Linked DNA regions of Homo sapiens: region 1 is linked to region 2. The links come from fine-mapping of genetic effects on gene expression. Tissue or cell type: thyroid. Region 2 holds a variant in brackets; the other region holds the start of a gene. All regions are shown on one strand. Distances are from middle to middle.

The links. PIP is the estimated chance that this variant, and not a neighbour inherited with it, causes the effect.
Region 1: TAFA5 starts here. The variant in region 2 is fine-mapped to the expression of TAFA5 in thyroid (GTEx, PIP 0.98).

Annotation. Positions count from the first base shown.
Region 1 is chr22:48,485,814-48,493,991 of GRCh38, reverse strand. It overlaps TAFA5 (TAFA chemokine like family member 5), which reads right to left and starts at 4,439. Exons shown (of 4, transcript NM_001082967.3): 1 at 4,288-4,439. The coding sequence starts at 4,399. RefSeq lists an enhancer at 1,856-2,361.
Region 2 is chr22:48,650,730-48,658,907 of GRCh38, reverse strand. The region is part of intron 2 of TAFA5 (TAFA chemokine like family member 5); the gene reads right to left. Among named protein-coding and RNA genes, the nearest start is that of MIR4535, 130 kb to the left of the region's middle. The variant T/C (reference allele first, on the strand shown) is at 3,725.

The sequences.
Region 1 (8,178 bases), 160 kb after region 2:
ACCTGTGTGGACAGTGGAAGAGTGGAGACCCCCCTTCTGGCCCTATCTCAGTGAAAGAGCAGGGGTGGAAGGTGGGAGGGGACAGTGGGGCACCGCCAGGATCACCAGGAGTAAATGCGGCTCTCCAGGGCACTGTCTAGAGCCGCTGGGAAGTCCCTTCCCCCAGGGGTCCCTTCGGAAGTCCCTTCCCCCAGGGGTCCCTGCGTGGGAAAATCCTGTGAGGGGACAAACCTGCCTCTTCCTCACTGAGCCTAGGGCATGGATGTCGGCTAAAAGAAATCCCAGAGACAGATAATTTATATTTATGGAGCTGAAAAAAAACAAACATCCCATCTTCTTGTGCCCCAAATTCATCAAATAAAAACACAGTGAGAATTTTTTCAAAAAAAGATGAGAAATAAACTTCTGAACGGCACCACTTCATTAAGCCTCCACTGTTTTCCATTTTACCTCTTCGAGAACTCCAGAACAAAATTTGAACAGCAGGAAAGTAACATATTCTAATCGCTCCTAAATATGCAATAAATTGTATTTATAAAGGAAATGCAACACTACAGTGCCTACGCTCAGTTAGGATTCTAATGGATTCAAAACAATTCCAAAGTTGTTTGTAATTTCTTCTCATAGTTATAGATGAGGACATGAGATTTAACTGGAAGGTACAGCTCAATATTGACGGGATTTATTTGGAAATTTCCATGTCCAGCACATAGTGAACCTGTCTGTCTTCCTCACTCTCCCTGGTACGCTGAAATATAGTCTGGGTCCCCACCATCCACCTGCTCGTGCTGAATAGGGCACATGGAATCTAGGCTAGTGCAGAGTGTCCTTCACCTTTGATTTCAACGCTGCACACAAGGACCGAGTCAGTGCTTAGGTGTCATAGGGAGTTGCCCCAGGTCCTCATTTGCTTCTCTCCCTTGCTGCTGTTCTATCCTAGATGCCAGGGTGGAAAGATCACATCTTCAGCGGCGGGCACAGAACACCCTCAACCAGCTCTAGCTGGGTCAAGAGGTCCCATTCCACATCTAGGCAAGAACCACATCTAGGCAGACAGACTTCTCTACTCCAAATACGCTAAGGGGAAAACAACCTATATCAACTCTTTTTAAGCCACACCCAGAGAGGTTTCCTCAGACCAGAATGGAGAAGAGCTTCAACTTCCCCATCAAAGCTCATCATCATGCAAGTCAACTTATTACCAACCATCCAACAACCCTCATGGGCAGCACCGGCCGCGGAGGAAACCAAGCCTGCTGTCACCGTGATGGTCGCAGACCACCGAGCATGCATTTTAAAGTGAGCCATCCAGGGCCCCTTTCCCCTGTTTGCGTCTCCTGGCACTTCTTCCCCAGGAGGAGAAAATGACAAGGCTGTGTCACTATAGCAACTAGCCTAATTGGTGGACTGCAGGTCTTTCTCCGGCCAGACGGTGGAGCCCATCTCCTTCTATATGGATCCCAGCACACGAGAAAGAAAGAAGGCCGGACTCTCACTGGGCCAAGAACAGTAGAATCCCCCCAACAGAAAACCAGGCCAAGAAAGAATCCAGTTTCCTCCTAGCTGCACTAGGAAGCCAGCACCTTATGTGTTGCAGAGAAACACACAGATTTAATAGGCAGGATAATTGAACGCTGTATGATACTTATCAGTTTCCCTAATTAATATGATACAAATATATCTGCTTCATAACACAAAGACATTTTGAGTAATAAAAATCCTTACTGATGACAAAAACAATTTACAAACGAGAATACGAACTATTCTTCTTCATCCCAGATCTATTGGAAGAAAGAATGAAAATCCTAGGAACTGTTTAATTTGCATTTAATTTGCTTTATCGGTTCTGAAAAAAGGGGGGGGGATTTTTTTTCTCTAGGACTGCAGTTCCAAGCTATAAATTATTATTATGTCTATTTTGTATTTTAGTGAAATGTTTTAATTTCTCCAAGTACATTTCTGGTGTAATGGGGTGTGTCTCTTATTGTCAATTATTCCATTACATGGAGATGGAAACAGCCATAAAAAATGTGCTTCACCCAAGCTTCTGTTATTAATTATTTCTGCTACTCTGGTAAGACCTTCTTACCAATTGTCCTTGTCCTGGCGAAAGGCTGTTTCCAGAACGCTGGGGAGGCCTCCTAAGGAGGAGGGATGAGTGTGGAAACCAGATCTCCCATCCTCAGCGTGTCTAAGCAGCAGGCTCAGATGTCTGTGCTGGGACACCAGGACTCCACTCGGCAGAGCAGGCGACAGTCTCAGGAAGGTGTGAGCCCGTCCGGATGAACAACGTGCTGACACCTTAGGATTCAGGATGCAGCGCAGGGTGGGAGAGGGCTGACGCTGCGTGTCTTGAGACAGTGTGTACCGCGCTCCTCGCGGGCTCGGGAAGTGCGGTGTTGAAGCCACAGGGCCCTGGTGTCAAGTACTTCGCAACAATTAGCAGTTGTTCTTTTCCACACCTGCTGAGCTGCTGGGGGTTGGGGGTGAGGTGTTGTCCTGGGTTCTAGCAGCCAGCCAGGGATGGGCCGCCTGTAGTGGGCTCAGGGCACTACAGCCCCTCCCCAAACACTGCTGAATGAGCCCCCTCTCCCTCTCCTCTCCTCTCTCTCCTCTCCTCTGGGGTGATGCCACCAGGAAGTGCATTCAAATGCCTCCTCTTCCGCACAGAGTTTACCTGCCATTAACCCTTTCTACATCTCCTAGGAAGCCTTGCTTGGGGATCTTCTAGGGAATCCCCCCACATACCCCTGCAGGCCCCGTGACGGCCGCGGAAAACTCGGGGGCAGGCACAAATGTCGCTCAAACCCCCAGACCCTGCTCCCTGCAGGCGGCCAGCCAGTGAGTTCCCAGGGGCGCCGGCGCACCCACGGTGGCCTCGTCTGCCTGGGCAGCTCGGGTTGAGACCCCCAGGCTTGGCGACCCCTCCCCGCTCGGTGCCACAGCATTTCTAGGGAAATGCATAACCGCGCTGAAGCAAGTAGGAAAATTCCTGCTCTGGTCCCCGGGTTTCCCTTGCGATCCTGGCGAGCTGGGCTGTCCCAGGACTCCGGAGGCCGATCCCGCGGCTGCCCGGGTCTCCCTGGGCCACTGTGCTCTCATTTTGGCGACAGCGGAAGGATCAGATCGGACTGGGAGCTTGGAGGCCCGGGGCTCTGGAGGAGGTGGTGTCTGTGGAGGGAGGTTCGGTGCTGGCCTTTTTTTTTTTTTTTTGTAAAGAATCCATATTTTTCCATCACCTCCCGCGCCCATGGCAATTCTCCATGACAGGTGCTCCCCAGCACCCGTCCTATTCTCCCGCTGAAGACAAGAAGCCCGGAGCTCCCGGAGCTGAAGCCGACCAGCCCGCGCCATCTGGGGCCAGAGCCTGTGCCCGGGACGCTGAGCGGCCCCCACTTACCCCACCAGCCGCGAACGTGCCCCGGGATGCTGAGCACCCTCCCCAGCGCCGAGGCTGGAGTCTGCACCCGGGACTCCAACCACCCCTCATTCCACCCGCCTGGAGCCTCGGCAGGGGCACAGGCCACCCCCCACCCTTCACTCCAGGCAACAGGGAGCCCGCGGCGGTCACCCCCTACCCCAGCCCTCAGCTCACGCCCGGGCGCCCACTGGCCCGCACCACCCCAGCCCGCGCCCGCGCCAGTCCCGCCGGTCACCAGCTCGGGCCCCAGACACGACCCGAGAAACGTCCGCGGCCGCGGCGAGCCCCCTCCGGGCATCCCATCCCTCACTTCGCTTCTCTTTCCAGAAGGCGCCTGACGAGCCCGTTTCCCGGGAAAGCGGAAGCTCCAGCTGCTCCTCCGAGCCCAGGCTGGGCTCCTGCCTGAAGAGCTCCTCTCCGGGCTCGGCCGCCGCCTCCCCCCTTGTCCCGGGCTGAGGCACGGGGAGGGCGCTCCGCAGACACCCCGGCAGCGCCGCCCGCCCTCCGCGACCTGCGGCTGCCTCCTGAGCGCGCATCTCGGCCGGGAAGCCGCTGGCTGGGCTCCGACCGCCGGGCAGGGACGGGCCGCGCCACCCGGGGCCTGGAGCCCGGGCCCTGCCGGGGAGTCAGGGAAGGGAGGCTCGGGCCGGGGCGTCCGACCCCGAAGTGCTCGAGCGCCCGGAACCCGGGTGGACCCTCTCGCCCGCCCAGCGCAGCGTTGGACCGGCCGGGACTCGGGGGACCATGCGCCCGGCGCTCGTAACTCCGCGCCGACTCCGGGAGGCCCGCGGGGCGCCTGCCGGGGCCGGAGGAGGGGGTCCGGGGCCCAGAGGGCCGTGCCGGGGCCGGGGCCGCGCGGTACTCACTGCAGTAGGCGATGAGCAGGCTGGCCAGGATCATGAACGCCCAGAAAGTTGAGGACATGCTGGGCAGGGCGGTCGCATCTTGCCGGCTGCCGGTCCTGGGCGATGGCGCCATTGAAGCCGCGGCGCCCGCGCGGGGGGCAGCAGCGCGTCTCAGCAGCCGGCCCTGCCCGCGCCCCCGCGCCGGCCTCCACGTGCGGGCCCCGCGCGCGCCATCCTCCGCCGCCGCCGCCGCCGCGCCCGGGCCCCGGCCCACCGCGCCCCGCGCCGCGCCCGCGCCGCCCGCGCTCGCGCCCGCGCCCGCCGACCCCGCGCCGGCCCGCCAGGGGGACGCCGGCCCCGCTCTGGGCGTCACTGCGCGCCCCGGCTACGCGCGCCCCGGCATCCGCGAGAGAGGCGCGCGCCCGCCACCGCTGGGGGCTCCAGCCGCCCGCCGACCCGGGCCTGGCAGAGGGGACGCGGCGCCCAAGCCGCTCCTCCGGATGGCGACAGAGACGGCCTGACGCGCCCGCAGCCTGGGCCCCCCACGGGGAGGACGGCCGGGCCAGGTGAAGTTCGCGCACTTGGGCCTTCCGCGCCCCCATCCACCGCAGCCAGGGCCTGGAAGGCTGGGGAGGGGGCGGGGGCGGCAGACGCCTCCTAAGGTGGGTTCTGGGACTTGGATCCGGAGTTTATTCCAAGGAGAGGGTGCTCTGGGCCTGTTCCCTAGGTGTGCCCTGTTACCCAAAATCGGGCTTGTGCAGTGGGGTCCCTGAGTCCACTGGGAGCACAGCCTCAGACCCCAGCAGAGTCACCCTTCATCGGAAGCCCACCACCCTGAGGGCTCCTCCTCCACCTGGGGCGGCACTGCCAGGCACAGGCACGCACTTTCCCTCAGTCCTCTGCCCCACGATCACTCTACTCGGGCACCTCTGCCACTGCCTGGTCCTTGCTGAGCCATCTCCTGGTTCATCTCCCTGGAGTCCCTGCAGGACCGGCTCTCAGTGGCGTCTCCGGGCTCCCAGTCCCAGGACTGGTCCTATCCAGGTGGGTTTTCTGAGCAGGATGACAATGATCGCAATCTATTTTACCTGCATAGTCAACGATCATCTGCAAGACAGGTTCACTCCTATAACAAGCAAAGGATGGGGGGAAAATGAGCCTTGTAAGGACACAAGGACACTTTCCCCATCTCCAACCCTCCTAGTCATGTCCCCTCTGCACCTCCCTCTACAGCCCAGGAGATACGCTCCCCAGTCCAGGATGTCCAGATGGCCCTGCTGCCTGGAGAGGCTCTGGCCCCTGCCGGTAGCTGCCACAGCACCACCCCAAGCTCTGCCTTCCTGCAGGTTCGTGCACACGACTAATAGAACCCCTCCTCTGGAACTCACAAGATATTCTCCATCCTGCATAGGGCTGGGGGCTTGAGCACCCCAGGAGATTCTTTTGGCGCTGGAGACCCTTTTCTGAGGAGCCAGTAGAGGGCCTGCAAGTCAGATTGAGCAACCAGGGAGAAGAAGCATCATCCCTTCATCTTGAGGCCTGGTCCAGGGAGGTGAAGGGATGTGGACTGTCCCCAGCCGTACACTCACCCACAACTCATGCATGCAAGCATTCATGCCCCAATGCACACACAGCACCACACACACACATATTTTCCTTGAATCTCTCTCTCTCTCTCTCACACACACACACACACACACACACACACACACTCTCCCATCCACACACACACAACACTTTAGGAGAAACTGAGCAAAGAAAGGCAGCCTCTCACTGCGAGTCCTCTAACCCCCGTCCCAGTGGTTGTTGTGCACTGAAGCTTCCTTGCCAGGGGCTCTGACGGGATTCTTGTGTTAATATGATTGTGTCCATGCTTGTTTTCTCCCATCAATTTTGAATCCTGTTTAATTAAAACGCTGACTTTCCTGTTTAGTATCTTCTCAACTGCAGCTTCTCCCCGCTCTCTTTCCTGGCAGGGAGGTGATTCTGCAGAAGTTGGGGCTCCTGACAACTTTGGGGTGGCCATGAGGGACGTACCTCTTGCCTCTGGATGTGCAGGGTGGGCCTGGGACCCTGGCAGGGAGGGGCTCCCTCAATGGGATTCTGTGGAGTCAGCCATTGATGCCCAGGTCTCCACCCTTACAATTTCATTCCTTTCATTGAAGCCTTTTTTCCTGCTAAAAAGGATGTGGCTTTTAAAATGTTACAGATTCCAATTCATCCTGTCCATCCCGAACTCCTGTGCCAGACATTCCTTCATTCAACCTCTGTTTATTGAGCAACTACTTGGGCCAGGCACTGGGACTGGGGAAGCCAACAAGACATAGATTTTCTGTCCCCCTGGAAAGTGACAGTCAGTTTGAGAAACAGACAAGGAAACAAACAATTCCAGTGCAGTGTGGCAAGCGTCACGATGGGAGGGAGAGGAGAGCACTCTTGGAGCACAAGAGAGGAGCATTTACCCTAAAATCACACTCTAGAACACAGCAAGGTGTGTGCCAGGGAAGGCTTCCAGGAGACTGGTTTCCAGGCCCTTTTGGTCCATCCTTAGGACAAACACACACACACATGCACACATATATGCACATACATGAACACACACACGCACGTGAACACACAGGCACACACATCCACACACACGCACATACATGCACACACATGCTTTAACACACATGCACACACGCATGCACAAACATGCTTGGAGTGAAACTTTCCGAAGCAATATTTACCCCAAAAATACTCTGATGTTTTCTATTGTATCCTAATTCATTTTTGAAATGCTGGTTGCCCTCCCAATAATTTGGTTTATAGTAATTTTCTTTCTTTAAAAAATATGGTTTGAAGAGAGATGCAGTCTACCTTGACTTTGGGAGGGTATATTGGAGGCTTCTTGCCAAAGGACAGGGGCTGTGGTGACAATGGGGTGGCTGGGGAGGGCTCCCAAGCAGAGGAGAAGGGGTGCAGTGCGGTACCCGGCCTGCTGTATCCAGGAACTCAGACACTGAGGTTTTTGTGCTCGCAACATTAGGGCTATGGCGGGGAACCTTGGGCTATGGGAGAGCAGTGCCTGGTTCATTACATGCTGAATATTTCCAGAAAAAGGGAATGGAAGGGGAGCCCTTGGTGCTTATGACTTGGAGTCTAGAATGGTGGAGAGTCTGAAAATGGTGACGCTAGAAAAGGTGAATTCTCCACCCCAGGTTACAAGTAGACGGACCTGAGGAGTGGGGAGGCAGGGGGGAGGTGTGGGGTCCGAGATCAGATTGAAGAGATGGGGTCTCCCTGGGACAGCAACCTTGAGGTAATTACAAAGACACCACCCCCGGGCAGCCCGAAGGCAAGGGCAGGTGCCTGGTCCAGCCCCATCCCGGCCTTGTTTCCAGAGGCCTGGAGAGAGAGACCAAGATGGAAATTGAGGATGGGGGGTGAGCGCAGCCTGAATTCGGTTGCTAGGGAACAGAAAGCTCTGCTCTGGATCGCAACACACGCTACGGATTGACGATTTTGTTGTTGTTGTTGATGGGCTGGTTTTGATTACTAGCCAGAACTGACAGGAGTTTAGATTTTGAAACCTAAATAAGTCTATTAAGGAATCACACCATCACCTTAACTCCTACCCAAAAACGCAGGGGATGGCAATGGTGTAACCCTTGAGGGAGTCCTCGGCTCTCACCCCACACCAAGCCACCAGTCCTGGGACTGCTTCAGAGGCCTGACCCATAGAAGGGGCATCCTGCATGGCGGGGCACCCAGGGTGTCGGAGGAGGGCAATAGAAAAAGGGGCGTTACCCAGAGAGGAGGGGCGGCTGACCAGGGTGCGGACCCAGGCACGTACTGCAGTCAGGTGGCAGCCTCGCTGTCCTCCTGGGGATGTGAGCCCACTGCTCGCTGTGTTCTGCTGTGGTCGGCGGG
Region 2 (8,178 bases):
GCTCTTGTCACTGCTCCCTCCACACCCCTCAGCACAGGGCACTGTCCATCTGAACCCTTATTCCATGACTGCCTGGGAGCCCAAGAGGCCACACTGTGGCCACAGGCCTGGTCCTTTCTCTCTCTACACGTCGACGCCCTAGGTCTGGGCCAGCAGGGGCATTTCCAGGACAGAAGAGAGACGTTCTCTGCAGCACTGAAGACCCAGTGCCCCCACTCTCCAGCTGTGGGCTTGGGGCCAGCTCCACCCTTTGTGGGGCTCAGCTTCCCTGCTTTTAACAGGAGGTGACAGCAGTACTGCCCTGGGTGGGTGTTTGTACAATGAATGGGGTGATCCATATAACCTTCAGGAAGGAGCTGGGACAGGCCAGCCCTGAACCTGCCGGCCGCATCAACTGTCACGGTGCTCCGTCACTCACGCAAGATGCAGCGTGGCTTTCAGGATGCTGAAAAATAACCCATATTTAGACTCCACCCAGAGAGGCAGGGAGCTGCGGAACTGAGCGCCCATGGGCTGTGCACATCCATCTGGCGTCTGCCATGGACAAGCAACGCTGCAGGCTCGGGACAAGGGACCTGCCTCTGTCCTCCTCAGAAGAGCCCCGGAATCCCCAGATGGGCCATAATAGGAACGCAGCAGTCGTAAGACCTCGCTGCTCCCCCACCCACCCTGCCCTCAGGAGTGTTTGTGGGGCTGAGTTTCGGAGGTGGAAGTGGACGGGAGCAGCTCAAGGTCCTCTGGCATCAGGCAGACCCCATGCACCCTTCCCTGAAACGTCACGAATGTCCCTGCTAATGGCCGCAATCAGGGCCCGCGCCAGCACCACATGCTGGGCCCCCTCAGCTCTCGGCTTCCTGGAGAGAATTTCCTCAAAGATTTTTCAAAGATATTTCTTCTTGTAGACGCTGATTATTCTCAGATGCTGATTAACATATGTAAGATGAGGCAAGCGGCATTATTAGCAGGGTGTAGTGGACACTTTAAACACCATCAAGAACCTGGAAGGCATCACTCAGGTTCAAGAGCGGCAGCGTCCCCCATCCTTCCCTCTCTGCTCCCAGCTCAGGCCTGCTGGTTCACTGGCTTTGTTCATCATCGGGTCTCCCTGAAAACCTGCTTCAACCAGGCATTTGGAGGCATCAGGACCCACTGACATTCACAGAGCGCCTTTACATACTCAGGGCACAGGTCTGTGCTGGAGATGCAGGCATGGATGTCACTGTCCCCATCACGGTGGTGCTGCAGGAGAGACACGTGCCTCAGGGATGAGGCGTACTGTGGGAATGCACGAAACCCAAAGTGACATCTATGTCCGTATCCATAGATCTGTAGTTTTCTTGTGATGTCTGATACTTTGGTATTAGGGCAATACCAACCTCATAGAGTGAGTTAAGAAGTGGCCCCTATTCTTCTATTTTTTGGAAGAGCTTTAGAAGATCCAGTGTTAATTTTTCTTTAAGCGTTTGGACCAATTCACCAGTGAAGCCATCTGGTCCTGGGCTTTTCTTGTTGGGAAGTTTTGATAACTCATTCCTTGTTTTTACTTAACATAGGTCTATTCAAACTGTTTGTTTCCTCTAGAGTTAGTTCTGGAAGTTTGTGTCTTTCTAGGAATGCGTTTATTTCATCTAAACTATCTACTGTATTGGCATACAATTGTTCATAGTATCCCTTTAACCTTTTTATTTCATATGGTGGGTACTAATGTCCCCTTTTATTTATGATGTGGTAATTTCAGCCTTCCTTCACTTTCCTTCTTCTCTATCCCTCTCTACTCCCTCATATCAGCCTAGCTAGAGATTTGTCAATTTCATTTATCTTTGAAAGAACTAACCTGCTGGGTGGGCAGTGGCTCACACCTGTAATCCCAGAACTTTGGGAGGCCAAGGCAGGCAGATCACTTGAGGCCATGAGTTTGAGACCAGACTCACCAACACAGTGAAACCCCATCTCTACTATAAATAGAAGAAAAAAAATAGCTGGGCATGGCAGTGCAAGCCTGTAATCCCAGCTATTTGGGAGGCTGAGGCAAGAGAACTGCTTGAACCCGGGAGGGCAGAGGTTGCAGAGAGCTGAGATCACACCACTGCACTCTAGCCTGGGCAACAGAGTGAGACTCCATCTTCAAAAAAAAAAAAAAAAAAAAAAAAAAGAGACTCCATCTCAAAAGAAAAAAAAATGAGACTCCATCTCAAAAAAAAAAAAAAAAAGAACTTTTGGTAATTTTCATTATTTTTCTATATTCTACTTTATTCCCATTTTGATCTTTATTATTGTCTTTCTTCCACTTGATGTAGATATTGTTTACTCTTCTTTTTTTAGTGTGTTCACGTGGATATTTTTGGTTTCAGTATAATTTATCTACAGGTCAGTTTATATAATTTCATTGTTTCTTTTTTTTTTGAGATGGAGTCTCGCTCTGTCACCAGGCTGGAGTTCAGTGACGCGATCTCGGCTCACTGCAACCTCCGCCTCCCGGGTTCAAGCAATTCTCCTGCCTCAGCCTCCCAAGTAGCTAAGACTACAGGCACCTGCCACCACAGCCAGCTCATTTTTTGTATTTTTTAGTAGAGACGGGGCTTCACCATGTTGGCCAGGATGGTAATTTCGTTTTTAATAATGGGAGTATTACAAGTCAATTCACACATTTCCTGAAAATTTAACCCATGGTTCTCGCAATCTGGTGCAAGCCAGTTCCAGTATACCACAAGGGTGGTTCTAGCAGACTCTAGAGAGCAAGCAACACCCTGAAAAAGAATCAGCGTCGGCCGGGCGTGGTGGCTCACACCTGTAATTGCAGCTCTTTGGGAGACCGAGGCAGATGGATCAGGAGGTCAGGAGTTCAACACCAGCCTGGCCAACATGATGAAACCCCATCTCTACTAAAAATACAAAAAAAAAATTAGCCGGGTGTAGTGGCAGGCGCCTGTAATCCCTGCTACTCGGGAGGCTGAGGCAGAGAATTGCTTGAACCTGGGAGGCGGAGGTTGCAGTGAGCTGAGATCGCGCCACTGCACTCCAGCCTGGGTAACAGAGCGAGACTCTGTCTCAAAAAAAAAAAAAAAAAAAAAAAAAAAGAATCAGTGTTTGGCTTCAGGAAGCCAGGCAGGACCGTGCCTTCAACCACACTGTCCCTCCTCTGCTTCTCTGCCCACAGCTCAGAGCGCTCAGGGGACCTGCTTGAGGCCACAGCTGCGTTAAGAACATTCACGTATTTCTAAATTGCCGTGGTCTAAAAGTGTTCCCTAAATTCACGTGTTGGAAACTTAACCCCCAATGCAGCAGTGTTGGGAGATGGGCACTTTGACCGATGTTCAGGTCATGAAAGCTCCACCATCCTGGAGAGATAATGCTGTAAAAGGACTTGACTGCGGGAGCCTGGCCCCCTTCTGCCCTTCCACCTTCCACCACGTGAGGATGGAGCGTTCTGCCTCTCTGGAGAATGCAGCCCTCACCACACAACTGAACACGCTAGTGCCTTGATTTTGGACTTCCCAGCCCCCAGAACAGTGTAAAATAAATTTCTTTTCTTTACAAATTACCCAGTCTCAACATCACAAAGTGGACCAAGACAGAAATATCCAAGTACTTAAGGACTTACATTCACTTTTCTAATGACTGAAGCACACAAAAGCTTTTCCCGCAGAAGAGTGAGGGCTGCTGTCCACTCTGCATCCTGCCAGCCCCTTCAGACACGGTTTGCTCCAGGAGCAGCCAGGGGGTC[T/C]GGGCAGGGCTGGATGTGGAGTGGACCCCCACTCATGCCTGCTGCTGAAGGACCCTGGGGCATCCTGGATGACAACCATGCCCAGTACACAATGACAGATGGGTGTGGCCTCCCCTTTAAACACAGTGCCCATTTCCTCCAGGAAGCCTTCCTGGATTGCCACACTGATGCATCCAGCTACTACCAGATCCACCACACGCTGCCTGACTCAGCTCTGGGCCCGCAGACCCCATAGGCCTAGGCTGCCCCACCACGGCCCCTCCTCCCAGCCCTCAGTGCTCCTGAAATGACTGTGGGGATAAGGAGGTTGCTCCCTGCTTGCCCCTGCTCTCCCCACATCTGTCCCAGCTTCCATCAGGGGCCTTCTGCCTGGGAGGCTGCAGAGTGGGTGCTGGATCAAGGTCAAATTCACACAGGAGCTCCTCCCAGCCCTCCCCTTCCTTTTCCTCCACGCCAGACAGTTATTAGTCATTTGAGTCATTCGGCTCAAAAATGACAGAATTCGAAAAAAAATTAAAACCCCACCCAAGTTTGTTGGGAGTGATTCGGATGGGAAAGTCAGTGCCGGGAGGCCTGCACTTGGCAGAGGGGCCCAACAGGACGAGGGATGGGACGTGCCTGGGCAGCACAGCCTGGGGTCCCATTGCCCAGGACCCTGCAGCTCTCTGTCCCCGAATCACACGGAGTGGGGGCCTTGTGGAGCAGGCATAAGCTGTCCCCATCCTCATGGGAAGGAGTGACGGTGGGTTCAAGGCAGGAGCACGAGTGGAGCAGGCGTGCTCCTTCCAAACCCTGTAGGCCCGTGGACGATGCATCCCACGTGCAGTGGGCCTTCCACGGGCAGGCTTCAAGAGTTCGAGGGGGCCAGGACACCAGCGCCCCAGCCCCAGGGGAGGGTGGTGGTCTGCCCAGGGTCAGGCCCAGCCCAGGTGTCTGGCCTCCTCCTCCTCCTCCTCTTGGCTCTCCTGGTTGGCAGCACAGGGGCCCTGTGTCCACAGCCCTGGGAAAGAGCCTCCCTTATGAAAGGGAGGGAGCAGAGCCAGGTGACCGCCCTCTTCCCTCCAGAGCCGCGGCGCCAACGTGACGGGACAGGACCCTCCCTGCAGAGCCACCGTGCCGACGTGACGGGACATGGAGAGGCTAGAGCAAGGAGACCACCCCCTTCCCTCCAGAGCCGCCGTGCCTACGTGACGGGACACGGAGAGGCTCGGGCACCCATGTTTGCTCAGCCACCTCCCAGTGTGCTCCCAACCTGAGACTCCCCACAGCACCTCAAAAATCAGCAACTTATCTACCAACCCCAGCTGCCATCTGGTGACGCTCACGTAGTGCCCGTGAATGCTGGGGTCTCCTCTCCTTCACCCTGAGCTGTGCTCCCTGGAGCTGGGAGTGGGGGCGCTTCACAGAGGGGGACATTCAAGGAACTTCATGTTCTCAGCAGCAGAACACCCTGGCTCCAACCGTCTCATCTCTCTACAGAGGCGTCAGAGAGCCATGCAGCTACTGTGTGGTTTTCCAACAATTAAACGCACCGAGATCTGGAAGGAACTGCTGGGTAACTTGCTGGAGAAGGACTGGCTTGCTCCCTTCTGGTAAAACTGGGCTCTGATGAAGCAAAGTGCTTGGCCTTTAGCACAGTTGCCATTGTACCCTCACGCCACAGCCATGGGTCGGGCCGGGCAGTCAGCTCCTCCCTGAAACAACTTCACCACAGTGGCCCTGGCCAGGGCACTGTGAGTTGTGGCTCCAACAGCAGACACACCTGCCCTGCCCTGCCCACCTGCTGGGCCTGAAGTGGCTGCATCCTCTGGACTGAAGCAATTCACATCCACGTCCTAGGGAACCGGGGGCAGGGTCTCTTCCCACCATCTTCCTCACAAACCAATCATGCTCAGAACTGAGGGACATGGTGCCCGCATCCCAGGGCATCTCCAACCCCATCTGGATCCAGGCAGAATGGAACGGAGGGGTGTGCTGGGGAAGAAAGTGTCGCCAACAGCCCCCAGGCGCCTCTCCGCTTGCCAAGCGTTTATAACACGCCACCCTCTCCCAGCAGTGGTTCCATAACAAAAAGGCCGCGGGTGGCAGCAGTCTGCGCGGAGATGTATGTGTCCTGACAGCCCCACCACGGTCGCGTGATGCAGTGGCTGGCAATGCCTGCCAAGCAGAGGGCCACACCAGCACCCACAGCTTCTGTGCCACAAAGCACGGACCCCAAGCCATGAGGGGTCCAGGGTGGCCAGGACCCACAACCTGGCTGAGGATGTGGCTGTACACCCAGTCGCCCATGGCCTCGGGAAGCCTCCAGAAATGCTGGGATCTCCCTGAGCCCCCAGAAGGAAGCCGACATGTCCATGCCCCTAAGCAGTGGAGAGGGTGCCTCCTGAGGCAGGCAGGTACCCAGCTGGTCTCCGTCGCGTACTGGAAGGTACCTGGAACATGAGTCCTTTTCTCAGGAAGGTTGTTAGGGGAGCGGGTGCCCAGTAAACAGCCCAGAGCAAAGCCGGTGCTCCACGTGGGGGTCTGGGCCCCTCTGAAAAACAGCTTCATTATCCTTCCTCAGATCAGGGCCTCGATGATTTGGTGAGGGCCCAGACCCCCTCCTGGATGGCGCTGGGTGGCCAGTGCGGGGTGCCAGGCTGCCAAGGGTGGTCAGGGCTCAACGCAGGAAGGGCTGCCCATGAACAGCCAACTGCCAGCAGGCGGTCTCCTGTGAGCTCTGTGGTCAAACAGATGTCCCCATGTTGTATGAACAACTGTAGGGAAGCAGGGCCTTCCTTATCCCAACCACCACTTGCCGAAGGGATGAACGGGGCAGGCAGGGCCAGCCACAGCCTCTCCAGCTGCCACCCTGGGGCCAACCCCTGGCCAGGCTGAGCACCAACTGGTAGATGCAGGCTGACTCGGCCACAGACACCGCATCTTAGGGACCTTGGCGCACTCCCAGTCTCTTGCGTACAATAGAGCAGGTGATTCACGTCGCTCCTGGTGGAAAATTCCCGTCACCCTAGTCCCAGCCACAACATGCCTTCAGCTGGCCCTGGGGGCCCCGTTGGCGCCTCGAGGTGGAGATGACGCGCTGTGCCCAGCCTCTCAGAACCGAAAGGCTTTTGCTCCTGCACTCCTGTAATTAAACCCCACATTGCTAGGGCATCATGAGCAGCTAGGCATGATGACGGTCAACAACGGGGAAAGGCAAGAGAAGAAGTGACTTCCCTCCTACCCTGGCTCCTGCAGTCACTGCCAGGACCCACAGCCCAGGGTCCAATGGCCCTGCCATCAGTGTGGTCCCCATCCCCACAGCAAGGACAGGACCATCTCCAGACTCCTGTACGTGGCCAGGGCACCCTCCACCCTCCCGCACCGACCTGCTGCTGGAGGATGAGGACAGGGCTGTGGACGTGGGGTGGAAGGTGACGCTGACCACAGATCCCCCTCGTGGTGCCCCTTCTTCTTCACACCTGGACTCTAAACCACACGTGAAGCACAGATGCCAAACCCACGGCCTCAGCGTCCACCCGCCTAAGGCTGCGCGTCTACTGCCAACCATCCACACTGCCTGAGAGCGGGCAAGGCCTCTGCTGTCCCACGCCTGCCTCAAACTCCCAACCACAGAGAAGCAAAGACTCTGGCCACCATACCTCTGCCCAGAACCCGGCAGTGCCCACCTGCCTGTTTTCTGCCTCTTTTCCCAGCCCAGGACCCAGGTGGCTCGCAAGGCCTCATGCCTGGAGAATATAAGGCTCCACCCAACACCCACCTCCAGGCCCTCTGGCCCTGCCCCTTCCTGGGCACAGCCTCCCCAGACCTGGCAGTCAGCCCGGCCTGTCCTGCACCTCCCAGTGGCCACTGCGGCCCTGACAATGGGTCTGCGCTGTGCCATGACTGCAGTTTACCATCCTCCAAAAGCTCCCAGGGAAAACTGCCCCCGCCCACGACCGAGACTTGAGGCTACCACCCTTCACCCCTCTGGCTCAGCTCTGGGGCAGTTCCGCTCACAAACCACCACCCTCTGCTGCCCCCGCTACTGGGCTGCAGTCTTTGATTTCCTGGGAAAGGAGTTTCAGGAGAACTCAACTTGTGGGAGACAGCACCTCTCTTCATAAAGGAAGACCTTGCTTCAGCGAGGCGGGCTGGCCAGGTACAGCCAGGTACTGCATGCCTGGCAAGGGCTGGGTGAGCGCTGGACTCGGACACAGGGTCTCAGTCCTCAGTGCCGTGCTGTGGTGGCTGCGGGACCCAGCACGTGTGTGCTGATGGAAAAGGGAACCTGGCGCGTCTGCATAAACAGCTAGAAAGGAGCAGAAGCAGGGCCTGGCCAGCCCGCCAGGGCATCACGCACCTGGGTGCCTGCCTCAGAGGGCAGCCCTGGGGGAGGGGAGGCTCGGTGGCTGATACTGTGTGTAAGGATGGAAAGCGCCACAGTGCGTGGCTGGTTTGTGTTTGAATCTTTC